Linked DNA regions of Homo sapiens: region 2 is linked to region 1. A link means that fine-mapping ties the variant in region 1 to the expression of a gene that starts in the linked region. Tissue or cell type: whole blood. Region 1 holds a variant in brackets; the other region holds the start of a gene. All regions are shown on one strand. Distances are between the middles of the regions.

The links. PIP is the estimated chance that this variant, and not a neighbour inherited with it, causes the effect.
Region 2: RNF10 starts here. The variant in region 1 is fine-mapped to the expression of RNF10 in whole blood (INTERVAL, PIP 0.93).

What each region holds. Positions count from the first base shown.
Region 1 is chr12:120,478,558-120,486,660 of GRCh38, forward strand. It overlaps a transcript of DYNLL1 not described here. Among named protein-coding and RNA genes, the nearest start is that of SRSF9, 13 kb to the left of the region's middle. The variant AT/A (reference allele first, on the strand shown) is at 3,769.
Region 2 is chr12:120,530,071-120,538,173 of GRCh38, forward strand. RNF10 (ring finger protein 10) reads left to right here and starts at 4,286. Exons shown (of 17, transcript NM_014868.5): 1 at 4,286-4,898. The coding sequence starts at 4,742. It overlaps LOC128071547, which reads left to right and starts at 4,627. Exons shown (of 1, transcript NM_001414895.1): 1 at 4,627-4,887. The coding sequence starts at 4,627. The coding sequence ends at 4,887. RefSeq lists silencers at 4,184-4,337, 4,436-4,505.

The DNA of each region.
Region 1 (8,103 bases):
AAGGCAATTACAGGCTGGGCACAGTGGCTCATGCCTGTAATCCTAGCACTTAGGGAGGCTGAGGCGGGCAGATCACTTGAGGTCAGGAGTTCGAGACCAGCCTGGCCAACATGGTGAAACCACGTCTGTTTTCTTTTCTTTTTTATGAGATGGAGTCTCAATCTGTCACCCAGGCTGGAGTGCAATGGCACAATCTTGCTCACTGCAACCTCCACCTCCTGGGTTCAAGCAATTCTCCTGTCCCAGCCTCCCGAGTAGATGGGATTACAGGCGCCCGCCACCACGCCCAGCTAATTTTTGTATTTTTAGTAAAGACAGGGTTTTGCCATGTTGGCCAGGCTGGTCTTGAACTCCTGACCTCAGGTGATCCACCTGCCTCGGCCTCCCAAAGTGCTGGGATTACAGGCGTGAGCCACCGCACCAGGCTGTGAAACTGTCTCTATTAAAAATACAAAAATTAGCTGGGCATGGTGGCAGGTGCCTGTAATCCCAGCTACTCGGGAGGCTGAGGCAGGAGAATCGCTTGAACCCGGGAAGCAGAGGTTGCAGCGAGTCGAGAACACACCACTGCACAGCAACCTGGGTGACAGAGCAAGTCTCCGTGTAAAAAATAATAGTAATAGGCCAGGCGCGGTGGCTCACGCCTGTAATCCCAGCACTTTGGGAGGCTGAGGCGGGCAGATCATCTGAGGTCAGGAGTTCGAGACCAACATGGAGAAACCCCGTCTCTACTAAAAATACAAAAAATTAGACGGGCATGGTGGCACATGCCTGTAATCCCAGCTACTCAGGAGGCTGAGGCAGAGGAATCACTTGAACCCGGGAGGCGGAGGTTGTGGTCAGCTGAGATCACACCATCCAGCCTGGGCATCAAGAGTGAAACTCCGTCTCCAAAAAAAAAAAAAAAAAAAAATAATAATAATAATAATAATAATAAAATTTAAAAAGGCAATTATAACAAAATGAGATATGTGCTACAAGAAATTCAGGGCACTCCTGCAGCTCTTAACCCAGGCTGGAGGGGAGTGTTCAGGGAAGACTTCCTGGAGGGAGTGGCTCTTCTAAACTGAGACCTGAAGAACCAGATGGTGCTAGGCAGGTAAATGAGAGGAGAAGAAAAGCATTCCAGACAGAAAGAAAGCACTGCAAAGAAAGCTGGGAGGACAGAGGCAAGCTTGGGGCTTTCGGGAAGCTAAATAGTTCAGCACAGTTAGAGCATGGGGTGGAGGTGAGGGCTGTTCTTCCTTGCACTAGTGCCACAAGCTACTTACAGTGAGATGCCCTAATGTAAATCAGAGCCTGGCTGGGTTAGATTACACATGTCAGTCCTAAGTATTTCAGATGTTCACTGGCAATCAGTATGAGTTGCCTTTACCATACAAATGTTTATTGTATATCCCTGAATAGGATGATTGTAAAGGGGTGGCATGATCAGTCTGGGGGAAGGGGCCTTGAGGGGAGTATGGTCTCACAGTGTCCAAAGGAGAGCTGTGAATAGCAAAAGGATGCTTGTTTGGAAGACAGAAGGACAGCAGAAGGGGACAAAGCAAAAATCCAATCATCCCTCCTTGTGTGAGGAAGATGGGGCTCAGGGGGAGCGGAATTCAAAATGTGAGGATGTTTATTAAAACCTATGGTTCCCCCAAAATTAGAGGGGACCTCAATCTGCATCCAGAGGGGGCTGGTTAAGCAGGAAATGTACAGTTCTAGTTCTGAATACTATGCAAACATTAAAAATACCACATTCATATGTGTGGATATGAAAAGATCTCCAAGATACTGACATCTACAGTGTGTACTGTGCTAGATGCTAGGGACACAGCAGAGGGGACAAAGTGTCTGCCTCCCTAGAGACAACACCATCTCCACACCCTCACCTTGGCCTTCAGGATGTGCCTGAAGCAGCTTCTCCTCCACTCCTGCTACTCCTGGCAGCTTCTCTGGGATCTGCTGTCTGGAAGCCTGTGTCCCTTTCCTTCCTCCAGGTCTTTGCATGGGCTGGCTCCTCTCCCTGGACACTGTTTTGCTCCCTCTACCTCTGCCTCCCGAGTCTTTGCCTGGCCAAGGCCTCCTCAGCCTTCAGGTCCTTGACTTAGTAAGGGGCCCAGGCCTGTGTGACCCAATCTAGAACTTTCCTTTGAGTTTATACCTCTGAAAGGCCTTGTTGTCTCCCATTATGCCTTTTGTTCCACCTCAAAGCATTTTTCTTTTTTTTTTTTTTTGAGACGGAGTCTCGCTCTGTTGCCCAGGCTGGAGTCGTGGCTCCATCTTGGCTCACTGCAAGCTCCGCCTCCCGGGTTCACGTCATTCTCCTGCCTCAGCCTCCCGAGTAGCTGGGACTACAGGCGCCCGCCACCATGCCCAGCTAATTTTTTGCATTTTTAGTAGACATGGGGTTTCACCATGTTCGCCAGGATGGTCTCGATCTCCTGACCTCGTGATCTGCCCACCTTGGCCTCCCAAAGTGCTGGGATTACAGGCGTGAGCCACCATGCCCGGCTCACATATTTCTTAATTTCTTTTTTCCTATTTGTAGTTTATGATTCTTATATTTATTGAAGTCTGTATGTATAACACTGTGCTAATACCAGTGACTTCCTGTGATGTCTTATCTTTGACACTATTTCTGACACCAAATGTGTGGTGCGGTCTTTATCTCTGGCACCAGATACGTGTCATTTTTCCACATCAATTGTTCAATTATCTGAGATCAACTGGACCTCTGAAAATTCTATTCAGTTCTGACACTAACTACCCAGAGTTAGCACAGACCCTGAACAAAAGTTAAGGACTGAGTCCCACAAGACCGCCCCCACTTTAGATGCCTGCACAAATGAGGTGCCCCAGCTACCCACATTTTTGTTGGGCCTACTACAAATTCAGAGGTTCCCACTCACCCCCTTCAGGTTCAATAATTTACTAGAGTGACTCACAGAACTCAGGACAGCACCTTATTTACATTTTCCAGTTTATTATAAAGGATACAACTAGGATCAACCAAATGGAAGCGATGCATAGGGCAAGGCATGGGGCGGGGCACAGCAGGAGGAGGTGGGAACAGAGCTTCCATGTCCTCTCCAGGTGCACCACCCTCCCAGCACATCAATGCGTTCATCATTCCAGACTTTCGGAACCTCCTGTTCAAGAGTGTTTGGAGCCCAGTCTCTAGCCCCACTCCCCTCCCTGGAGGTTGGGGGAAGGAGCTGAAAGTTTCCATCTCTAGTAATGTGGATAGTCTTTCTGGTGAACTCCCATATGTATGTTAATAAAATAAATGATTAAATTTTGTCTTCTTTTTGTTTGTTTTAGAGACAGGGGTCTCGCTCTGTTGCCCATGGGGCAGTGCAGTGGCATGATGCTAGCCCACGGCAGCCTCGACCTCCTGGACTCAAGTGATCCTCCCGCCTCAGCCTCCCAGAGTGTTGGGATTATGGGTGTAAGCCACCACGCTTGGCCTTCTCTTGTTAATATATCTTTCGTCTGTTTAATTCACAGGTCCCCAAAGACTAAACCTGAGGGTAGATAAAAAGTTTTTCCTCCCAGACACTGTCTACAAACTGATTCTAAAATTTACAGAGAAGCCAGGGCACTGTGTTTTGCACCTGTAGTCTCAGTTGCACACTTGGGAGCTACTTGGGAGCTGAGACAGGAAGATCGCTGGAGGCCAGGAGTTTGAGGCTATAATACACCATGATCATGCCTGTGAGTAGCCAATGCACTCCAGCCCGGGCAACATAGAAAGGCAAAGGTACTAGATTTGCCAAAACA[AT/A]TTTTTTTTTTTTTGAGATGGAGTCGCGCTCTATCGCCCAGGCTGTAGTGCAGTGGCGCCATCTCGGCTCGCTGCAAGCTCCACCTCCCGGGTTCACGCCATTCTCCTGCCTCAGCCTCTCAGGTAGCTGGGACTACAGGCGCCTGCCACCGTGCCCGGCTAATTTTTTGTATTTTTAGTGGAGATGGGGTTTCACAGTGTTAGCCAAGATGGTTTCAATCTCCTGACCTTGTGATCCGCCTGCCTCGGCCTCCCAAAGTGCTGGGATTACAGGCGTGAGCCACCATGCCCGGCCTAGCCAAAACAATTTTTTTACAGAGAAAGGCAAAGGTACTAGATTAGCCAAAACAATTCTGAAAAAAAAAATAGTCAGAGGACTCACATACTCACATTACCCAACTTCAAGACTCACTATAAAGTTACAGTATTCAAAGTAGGGTGGTATCAGCAAAAAGATAAACACATAGAGCAGTGAGACAGAATAGACAGCCCAGGCCAGACATGGGCTTTGGGAGGCTGAGGCAGGAGGATTGCTTGAGTCCATGAGTTCGAGACCAGCCTGGGCAAGATGGCGAGACCTCCATCTCTACAAAAAAGTAAAAATTTAGCCAGGCATCGGTGGCTCGTGCCTGTGGTCCCAGCTACTCGAGAGGCTGACGCAGGAGGATCCCTCAAGCCCAGGATCCAGCCTGGAAAACAGAGCAAGACCTCATCTCTTAAAGAAAAAAAAAGGCCAGGCACGGTGGCTTACACCTGTAATCCCAGCACTTTGGGAGTCTGAGGCGGGTGGATCACAAGGTCAGGAGTTTGAGACCAGCCTGACCAATGTGGTGAAACCCCGTCTCTACTAAAAATACAAAAATTATCTGGGTGTGGTGGTGCACACCTGTAACCCCAGCTACAAGGGAGGCTGAGGCAGGAGAATTGCTTGAACTTGGGAGGTGGAGGCTGCAGTGAGCTGAGATTGTGCTACTGTACTCTAGCCTGGATGACAGAGAGAAGCTCTGTATCAAAAAAAAAAAAAAAGGTCAGAAGAAGAGCGAAGGTGGTGAGATATATTTTCAAGATTGAGCTTAAAGAATTTAAGCTCATTAATGTGCTTAAATTAGATGTGAGGTGTGAGGAATATACACAAGTCAAGGAAAACTTCTAGATCTCTCTCCTGAGCACCTGGAAGAATGCAGTGGCTATTTACAGTGATAAGGAAGCCTGCAGGATAAGCAGGCAGGTTTGGGAGTAGAATAGGTCTGTTGTGGATGTGTTAGGTTTGAGACAGATGCCTGTTAGACATCCTAGAGCTATTTCAAATAGGACTTAGAGATATGGGATGGGCATTCAGGGGCAAAGTTTGGGGTGAAAATACAAATTTGAGAGTTGTGAGCCATGAAATTTAAAGCCATGAAAATGGAGACTCCCAAGAGAGAGTTTAAATAGAGAAGTAGCCCAATAGAGAAGGCCTGGTTCACTTCTTCCTTCAGATGTCATGGAGAAAAGGGGAAACAAACAGAGGAGCCTGAGGTGGAGCAGCCAGTGAGATGGGAGGACAGCTAAGAGAGTGTGTGGTCCTGGAAGCCAAGGGAGGACCCAGAGGAAGAGAGCAACTGTGACATGTATGGCCATGAAGGGCACTGAGAATTGGCCACTGTGTTTAGCAGCATGGTGGTCACCGGTGACCACCACATTTGAGCTGTGTGGGTGCAGTGGATTAAAGAGAGAATGGGAGGTGAGGAATCGGGGACAGGGAGTACAGACAACTCTTGGAGGAAAGCCGAGATGGGATGGTAGCTACAGGAGAATGTGTAGGCAAGGGAAGCATTTTTAAAAGAATATGACAGCATGTTTGCACGCTGGTGGGAATAATCCAGTAGACAGGGGAAACTGATGATGCAGGAGAGGGAGAAGAGACAATCACAGGAATGAGAGGAGATGGACCCAGTGCCAGGGAGATGGCCTTAGATAGGAGCATGAACAGTTCATACAGGGTAACGGCAAGGGAGGCAGAATGTGTGTATACAGATGTGGGTGGGTGGGTGGGGACAGGTGGTGGAAATGCATGGAAGTTTATGAAAGGAATAAAGTAGATTTATATATCGTGACAGGGAACTCAGAATCATCCCATTTTGGTAAAAAGGAAAAAAGCCTGTTATATGCCGGGAAAAAATCAAATTTTAACATTATCTTTGAGTTGTAAGATTACAGATCTTACAAAGGAACTTTCTTTTTCAGATTCTAAATTTCTACAGTGTTTCACTTTTATACAATGAGTACCTATTACTTCTGAAAGTAGAATTAAAAAGATTATTTTTATCTTTGAAAGATATTCATCAGAACAAAGCACTGTTACAATACTGAAAAACTGGAAGCAACTTAAGTGTCCACTGATAAGTGATTGTTTCAAGAAGTTATGCATGGACTTTTTTTTTTTTTTTTGAGACGGAGTCTCACTGTGACACCCAGGCTGGAGTGCAATAGCGCAATCTCGGATCACTGCAACCTCCGCTTTGCTTCCTGGGTTCAAGCGATTCTCCTGCCTCAGCCTCCTAAGTAGCCTACAGGCACGCAACACTACACCTGGCTAATTTTTTATATTTTTAGTAGAGATGGGGTTTCACCATATTGGCCAGGCTGGTCTCGAACTTCTGACCGCAAGTGATCCAACCACCTGGGCCTCCCAAAGTGCTGGGATTACAGGCGTGAGCCACCGCCCCTGGCCGCATGGGCTATAAAGAAGCTATTAAAATTGGGCTGGGTGCAGTAGCTCATGCTTGTAATCCCAGCACTTTGGGAGGTGAAGGCAGGATGCCTGCTTGAGCCCAGGAGTTTGAGGCTGCAGTGAGCTAGGATTGCACCACTGTACTCCAGCCTGGGTGAGAGTGGGACCCCATCTTTAAAAATACATAAGTAAATAGTTATGTTGTAGAAGGCTTTTTTTTTTTTTTTTTTTTTTTGAGATGGAGTCTTGCTCTGTCGCCCAGGCTGGAGTGCAGTGGCACGATCTCGGCTCACTGCAACCTCCACCTCCTAGGTTCAAGCAATTCTCTGCCTCACCCTCCCAAGTAGCTGAGATTACAGGCGCCCACCACCACACCCAGCCAATTTTTGTATTTTTAGTAGAGACAGGGTTTTAACATCTTGGCCAGGCTGGTCTTGAACTCCCGACCTCGTGATCCACCTGCCTCGGCCTCCCAAAGTGCTGGGATTACGAAAAGCAGGTAACAAAAATGATACATTGGCCAGGTTCAGTGGCTCATGCCTATAATACCAGCACTTTTGGAGGCCAAGGTGGGAGGATTGCTTGAGCCCAGGAGTTTGAGACCAGCCTGGGCAACATAGTGATACCTCATTTTTATTAAAAATCAAAAAAATTAGCCAGGTGTGGTGGTGTGCACCTGTGATCCCAGCTACTTGGGAGGGAGGGGCAGTCGGATCCCTTGAGCCTGGGAGTTTGAGGCTGTAGTGAGGTACGATCGCACCACTACACCCTAGCCTATTTGACAGAGTAAGTCCCTGTCTAAAAAAAAAAAAAAAAAAAAAAAGATACATACAGTGTGATAGGTATTATATGATATGAATATGTTCTTATCTGTAGACTGGATGTATTTAAGACAAAATATTGACAATGGTTATCTCTGTACAGTTAACATTTATAATTCATTCCTTGTGTTCTTCTGTATCTACTACCATGTGCATTTATTATTTTTGTAATTTTTAATAAAAAACGGGTGTCAGGAAAGAAAATTGATTAAAACCCCTGTAAATATTTCACATGTGTAATGGCTGTGACATTGAGTTTGAGAACAGCTGCAGTTGGCTGCACTCATTACATTATTTTACTTTATAGCTTTGTAGTAAAGGTTGATTTATATGAGCCGAAATGGAAAATGGTCACAGAGAAAAGAGTTGCAGAGGCCCTGGCCAAAACCACCTGGCACCCTGCTAATGAAATAATACCTTTGGAGTTTCTTGGGGGAAGTGGCTCCTGGAAGAAACAGATTATTATGTACAGCCTTAAGCTCTGGCTTTGTGATCCTAAGATGATAAGTTTGGGGGTACCAAGGGTTCTGCTCTTACCGAGAGAGAAAAACAACTTCTTTGCATTCCCCTCTCTGTCCCCTGAGAGAACCAGGGCTTTGCAAACAGATGTTTCTGTTTTTGTTTTTGAGTCAGGGTCTCGCTCTGTTGCCCAGGCTGGAGTGCAGTGGTGCAATCATAGCTCACTGCAGCCTTGAACTCTTGGGCTCAAGCAATCCTCCCCGCTGTAGCCTCCTGAGTAGCTGGAACTACCGGCACACCCCACTATACTAGCTAATTTTTTATTTTTATTTTTGGTAGAG
Region 2 (8,103 bases), 52 kb after region 1:
TTTGAAATGAAAATTCTCTTCCTGGTTTAATATAGCCTGACAGATGGACACCTAACCGCTTTCGTTTGGGAAGTACTGCGCTGGGATTTCTGTTTCTTTCTCTTTTATTTTAAGAATGATAGAAGGTCCTCGTTGGTATAGTGATGAGAAAAAAAAAAGGAAGGATACAAGGGCGAAATGATTCATCCATGTATTCATAATTCTCATGTCTTTGTTAAAAGAAATTAAGTGGCTGGGTGCGGTGGCTCACGCCTGTAATCCCAACACTTTGGGAGCCCGAGGTGGGCGGATTGCATGAGGTCAGGAGTTCGAGACCAGCATGGCTAACATGGTGAAACCCCGTCTCTACTAAAATACAAAAATCAGCCAGGCATGGTGGTGCACACCTGTAGTCCCAGCTATTCAGGAGGTTGAAGCAGGAGAATCCCTTCAACCCAGGAGTCACTGGTTGCAGTGAGCTGAGATTGCACCACTGCACTCAAGCCTGGGTGACAGAGCCAGACTCCATCTCAAAAATAAATAAATAAATAAATAAATAAATAAATAAAGTCTCATCAAAGAATCTTATATCTTCCATATCTAGTTATATAAAAGAATGGATCTCAGGATTTAGGGCTGTTCCTTCTGCACATCAGATTAAGTATCCAGACCAACAGTATTTCACTGTTCTCTTATTTCATATGATATGTGGAGGAAAACCTGTAAAAAGTGAAGTAGGACAAGGACTGTTGGAAGGTATTTTTTTTTTGAGGTAGCGTCTTGCTCTGTTGCCCAGACTGGAGTGCAGTGGCATGACTTCGGCTCACTGCAACCTCTGTCTTCTGGGTTCAAGTGATCCTCCTGCCTCAGCTTCCCTAGTAGCTGGGATTACAGGCATGCGCCACCATGCCAGGCTAATTTTTGTATTTTTAGTAGAGATGGGGTTTCGCTATATTGGCCAGGCTGGTCTTGAACTCCTGACTTCAGGTAATCCACCTGCCTCAGCCTCCCAAAGTGCTGAGCCACCACTCCCGGCGCTAATTTTTGTATTTTTAGTAGAGATGGGGTTTCACCATTTTGGCTAGGCTGGTCTTATTTACTTATTTATTGATTCATTCTTTATTTTGAAATAGGATCTCACTTTGTCACCCAGGGTGGAGTGCAGTGGCACAATCATAGCTCACTTCTCACCCTCCCAGGCTCAAGCCATCCTCCCACCTCAACCTCCTGAGTAGCTGGGACTACAGGTGTGCACCACCACACTGGGCTGATTTTTGCATTTTTTGTTGAGACAGGGTTTTGCCATGTTGCCCTGAATGGTCTTGAACTCCTGGGCTTGGGCAATCTGCCTACCTCAATCTCCCAAAGTGCTGGGATTATAGGCGTGAGCAACCGCACCTGGCCCTGGTCATTTCCTTAATAGCATGTCTATGTGATCTTTTGAATCTCAAACTACTATGGTTGGAAGGGAATCATTTGTAATTTTCCAAAGTACAAATAGGTGTGGTATGATTCCCAAAGTCTTAGCGTCTATATCTGTAAACCATATGTTTTTGTTTTTTGTTTTTTAATTTTTAGTAGAGAATTGGTTTCACTATGTTCAGGCTGGTCTCAAACTCCTAACATCAAGTGATCTTCCTGCCTCAGCCTCCCAGAATGTTGGGATTGAGCTACCTTGCCTGGCCACATACATGATTTTCCTTTTTTTTTCTTTTTTTTTTTTTTTGAGACAGAGTCTCGCTCTGTCACCCAGGCTGGAGTGCAGTGGCCCAATCTCAGCTCACTGCAACCTCCGCCTCCCAGGTTCAAGCGATTGTCCTCCCTCAACCTCCCAAGTAGCTGGGACTACAGGTGTGCGCCACCACGCCCGGCTAATTGTTGTATTTTTAGGAGAGACGGGGTTTCACTGTATTGGTCAGGCTGGTCTCGAAATCCTGACCTCGTGATCTGCCCGCCTCGAACTCCCAAAAAGTGCTGGGATTACAGGCCTCCCAAAAAGTGCTGGGATTACAGGCCTCCCAAAAAGTGCTGGGATTACATTGCACCTGACCCACATACATTATTTTCTTTCTTCTTTTTTTTTTTGAGATGGAGTCTCGCTCTGTTGCCCAGGCTGGAATACAGTGGTGCAGTCTTGGCTCACTGCAACCTGTGCCTTCTGGGTTCAAGTGATTCTCCTGCCTCAGCCTCCTCAGTAGCTGAGATTACAGGTGCGCACCACCACGCCTGGCTAATTTTTTTGTATTTTTAGTAGAGACGGGGTTTCACTATGTTGGTCAGGCTGGTCTCGATCTCCTGACCTGTTGATCCACCCGGCTTGGCCTCCCAAAGTGCTGGGGTTACAGGTGTGAGCCACCGTGCCCGGCCCCATATGCATGATTTTCTAAATCTCAGTCTGTATCTGTAAAATGAGGAACTGCTTGTCTCATAGGTAAGAACATCACTTGTTAGCTATGTGATAATAGGCAAATTATCTGGACTTTTGGAGTCCATTTACTCATCTTTAAATTTTATTTATTTAGGGACAGAGTCTTGTTGTGTTACCCAGGCTGGATTCATACTCTTGGGCTCAAGTGATCATCCCTCCTCAGCCTCCTGAGTAGCTGGGACTACAGGCACACTTAGTCTAAAATTTAGTTATTGAGAAGATTAAATGTGATAATGTTAACAGCTGTTAAATACAATTTATAGGAGCCCATTGTTTTGCACTGAGCTTCAGCACAGTAGACCAAACCAAAACAGAGTTACTCAAGGTGAATTTCTACCCAACCACGCCTAAACGAAATTGTTTATCTGACCTTCTGAGAAATCATCAAATCCCCAAACTGGTCAGTTTTACCCCACATAAGGAAGTCCATTCTGCTTAAACCTTTACAAGAAAAGTAATTTTGAAATGACTAATCTGCTTTTTGTTCTCTGTTTCTACTTTTTAAAAAAAAGTTTAGACAGGGTCTCCCTCTCTGTCACTCATACTGGAGTGCACTGGCACGATCGTATCTCACTGCAACCTCCAACTGCTGGGCTCAGGTGATCCTCCCACCTCAGTTTCCTGAGTAGCTAGAACTACAGGTGTGCAGCCACAGCCACTATGCTTGGCTAATTTTTTTTTCTTTCTCTCTTTTAAATTAAAGTTAGTTTTATTCAAACTATTTTATTCAGAGCCCAGCTAATTTTTGTATTTTTAATAGGGTCGGGATTTTGCTATGTTGGCCAGGCTGGTCTTGAACTCCTGGCCTCAAGTGATCTGCCCCCTCCTCAGACTCCCAAAGGGCTGGAATTACAGGTGTGAGCCACCACGCCCGGCTGCCCAACTAATTTTTTAAAAAATATTTTTATTCTTTAGAGACAGGGGTCTCGCTATATTCCCCAGGCTGGTCTGGAACTCCTGGCCTCCAAGGATCCTTCCACCTCTGCCTCCCAAAGTGTTGGGATTACACGCATGAAACACTGCTTATGGCCTGTTTCCGCCTCTGTCTCCTGGGTAATGGGGACCACAGGTGCGCACCGCCACGCCAGGCTAAAGAAATAAAGTGATGTACTGTATGAAGAAGTGCCGTAAAGTGATATTAAATGTAAGGTATTGTCATTATTAACGTTATTATTATTATTCCTAATATGAGATAGACTAAAGGCCATAAATCAATTGGTATTAACGCTAGAATAAGAACCATAAATTGGCCGGGCGCGGTGGCTCACGTCTGTAATCCCAGCACTTTGGGAGGCCGAGGTGGGCAGATCACGAGGTCAGGAGATCAAGACCATCCTGGCTAACACGGTGAAACCGTGTCTCTACTAAAAATACAGAAAATTAGCCGGGCGTGGTGGCGGGCGCCTGTGGTCCCAGCTACTCGGGAGGCTGAGGCAGGAGAATGGCGTGAACCCGGGAGGCGGAGCTTGCAGTCAGCCCAGATCGCGCCACTGCACTCTAGCCTGGGCGACAGAGCGACTCCGCCTCAAAAAAAAAAAAAAAGAACCATAAATCAAACGAGTCTATAAAGGAGTTCCACAGGTATTCCAATGTTTGGCTACATTATTATCAGTGTATATTATTATTGTTACTGTATTTTTAGTGTACTAAGTGAAAAACCTGGACTTGGAGCAACTGCAAGTCCCATTATTTTGAATGCCCTCACAGTGGGGTTGGGGCGGAGGTGGGGGAGGAAATAAAAAAAACAAAACCAAAACAAACAAACAAACAAAAACCAAAAAACAAACCACGAGACCCGGATGTAGGCAAAAACTACATTTCCCAGAATACCTCACCCCCTCTCCACTATATATACAGTCCATCCGGGTTCTTTGAGATGCTGTTTGGCGACTCGTCGCCATTCCCGGAGCAGGTCGGCCTCGGCCCAGGGGCGAGTATCCGTTGCTGTGTCGGAGACACTAGTCCCCGACACCGAGACAGCCAGCCCTCTCCCCTGCCTCGCGGCGGGAGAGCGTGTCCGGCCGGCCGGCCGGCGGGGCTCGCGCAACCTCCCTCGCCTCCCCTTCCCCCGCAGCCTCCGCCCCGCCAGGCCCGGCCCGGACTCCCGAGCCCCGGCCTCCTCGTCCTCGGTCGCCGCTGCCGCCGGGCTTAACAGCCCCGTCCGCCGCTTCTCTTCCTAGTTTGAGAAGCCAAGGAAGGAAACAGGGAAAAATGTCGCCATGAAGGCCGAGAACCGCTGCCGCCGCCGACCCCCGCCGGCCCTGAACGCCATGAGCCTGGGTCCCCGCCGCGCCCGCTCCGCTCCGACTGCCGTCGCCGCCGAGGCCCCCGTTGATGCCGCTGAGCTCCCCCAACGCCGCCGCCACCGCCTCCGACATGGACAAGAACAGCGGCTCCAACAGCTCCTCCGCCTCTTCGGGCAGCAGCAAAGGGCAACAGCCGCCCCGCTCCGCCTCGGCGGGGCCAGCCGGCGAGTCTAAACCCAAGAGCGGTAAGGACGGGCCTGCGGCAGTGGGCGGGGGCGACTGCCCCTGCTGCTGGGGAGAGTCGTTGCTCTCATCGGCTGGGTTACTCGGGGACAGGCTCCACTTTCTTTTATAGCTCCTACCTGCCCTTTTCCATGGCTCTCATTTGCAGTTACATTAATGAGCGCTGTGCTGCGTGGTTTACGTGGATCATTTACATTAATACTCAAAACTGCTCGATTAAGCAGGTGCTGTTCTTATCGCCATTTTGCATATGATGAGAAAGGGTAAGGTCACCCAGCTAGTATTTGGCTCACAGCAGGCCTTAAGACTTGGTTTGTGTGACTCATCAGTCCACGCTCCTAAAACCACTAAGTTGTTCTACCCTTTAATGTTGAATTAACATTGGATAGTGTTCAAGTTTAGATGGGTGGGTGAGGGCCCAAGGACCTTTCAAACTCAGATCTCTTATTTAATAACCTGGTCCCAGATCCATTCCTCTGTCGAAGAGGAAGTCATCCTTCAGTGGCTATTCATTGTGGGGTTAAGAGCGCAGACTATGAATTCAGTCTTTTTGGGTCCCAGTTTGCCAGACCTTGAGTGAGTGCCCCGAGTTTACTTACTTGTAAAGGTAGGTGGAGGTAATATAATTAAATAAACTTAAAAAACTAATTAAAAACAAAACAAATGAACTAAGGTCTTAGGATATCTGGCGTCTATTTTGCGCCAAATACACATAATGTCTATTGTTGTGTGTTGGACTATAGGATTGTCCTTTAACAGGGAAGGTTTTATTTCTGTAATCAAGTCTGTCAATATTATGACCATGTTGATAATAGCTACCTTTAATTGAGGGCTTACCATGTGCCAAGTACTAGGTGAAGTTTTTACCTCTGTTTTCACTGTGCCAGTCACTGACTTGTCTACCAGGGTGAAATTGTTCATATTTAAAGAAGGAATAAACTGAGCAGGTAGGATGTTAGGAGTTGGCAGAGGCTAGAGTCCCGGTGTTCTTCATTTTATTTCGAAGTTTGTACTAATCTCTGCTCTCTTTTGTATTTCAGTCACATTAGCAGTAATAGGAAGGTGTTTTCAGCGACAGTGGGGATGTTGTGGCAGAGAGGGAAATATTTGAAGTCCCTAAATGTGGAGGTCCAGTTTAAAACTTGTCAAGATTAAAAAAACTGTTTAGAGTGAGACCGGGCGCGGTGGCTCATGCCTGTAATCCGAACACTTTGGGAGGCTGAGGTGGGAGGATAGCTTGAGCCCAGGAGTTTCACACCAGCTTGGGCAAGATAGTAAGACCCTCGTCTCCATAAGAAAAAAAAAAAATTAGCCGAGTGTGGTGGCACACACCTGTAACCCTACCTACTTGGAAGGGTAAGGTGGGAGGATCGCTTAAGCTCAAGGAAGTTGAGGCTGCGGTGAGCTATATCACGATACTGCATACCATCCAGCCTGGGTAACAGAGACCCCCATCTCTAAACAGTAAAAAGAAAACTAAGGCTGACTTAAAACAAACAAAAAAAACAGAAAATTGTAAGGTCTGCTAACTCGCTCAGAGTTCACCTGCTGGATATGGCAAACTTGTTTACCTGGTGTGAGACCATTGGAGTATGGGTTCTCGGGCCGTGTCAGGAAATGGCATGTATGCAGACTGATTTTGCAGTTCTGCACATGCGTAGCTTTGCCATAGATCCCTCAAAAGATAGAAGGTAACCAGTCCTTTTGGTCAGTGTTGGAACTGGTTTAGAGTGGTCTGTTCAAAGCAATTGATAAGTAAGTTTATTTTTGTACTCTATTCCCAGATGTATGTTAAGGATTTGGTTCTCCAACTGTGAATTCTCAACTAATTTTTCTGGGGCTCCTCTTTAAGCCACTAACATACATTCATTAGTCAGTTGCAATAAATGCCTTAAGTTTATTTCTTAGCAGTAGGTGAAAGCTTGTGACAACTTAAAATAAAACAAACAAACAGGTATTTAAGGAATTTTACTGCTATGTCCTTCACTTTGAATATGTTGGTTAGTGGAATTAACTCTGATTACCCAACAAGATGATACAGAATTCTATAGTAGTTTGACCAAAGCAAGTATTTGTCATTGTTAACATTTCAAATGGGCTGGGTGGCTATAATCCCAGCACTTTGGGAGGCTGAGGCAGGCCGATTACTTGAGCCCAGGAGTTCGAGACCCTGTCCTACAAAAAAATAAATGAGCCGGGCGTGGTGGCACGCACCTGTAGTCCCAGCTGTGAAGAGGCTGAGGCAGGGGAGGAGGAAGAGCACTTAAACCCAGAAGTTCGAGGTTGCAGTGAGCCACGATCACTCCACTGCACTCTAGCCTGGGTGGCAGAGTGAGACCCCGTCTCAAAACAAGAAAACTTCTGTAAAAACTCATGTAGGCCGGGTGCGGTGGCTCACGCCTGTAATCCCAGCACTTTGGGAGGCCGAGGCAGGTGGATCATCTGAGTTCAGGAGTTTGAGACCAGCCTGGCCAACATGGTGAAGCCCCGTCTCTACTAAAAGTACAAAAAATTAGTCCGGCGTGGTGGTGCGCACCTGTAATCCCAGCTACTCGGGGGGCTGAGGCAGGAGAATCCCTTGAAACCGGGAGGCGGAGGTTGCAGTAAGCCAAGATTGCACCATTGCACTCCAGCCCGTCTAAAAAAACAAAAACTCATGTAAAGGCCCTTTGTTAGATTTTACAAATAACACATATGTGCCTTGAGGCAGCATTCTTTTTTTTTTGTTTAATGTGTGTGTTAGAAAGCTTGACCATGTTTGCCACCGCCAGTGTCTGCTTTTCTGGCTTCTGCTGTGCGTGTTCGTTTAGCAAGGAAGGATGGGCTTTGTAGCCAAATCCATGCTTCTTCACTAGCCATAATCCACTGCTTGCATTTAGGAACAAATTAAAAGGCAGGATATGTGGAGATTAAAAGGTTAGGAAACTGGATATTGGCTGATTTTTAAAGTTGAAACTAAGCTGCCTTAGGAACGTAACAGCTAAGACCAGTGCTACTACAGCAGATACTCAGGAGCTCTGATGCAGTGACTTCACGATGAGATGGTTGCTCTAACAAAAGGGTACACTCAAGCTCCGCATAATCCCATAAAAAGATTTCTGCAGTATCTCATAAGCTGAACACTTCATATACTTGATTCTGCTGGGAATCATTGAAAGGACCTCTTGAATTACAGAGTACTGAGTTGAGGGGAAAACAAGCGTAAGG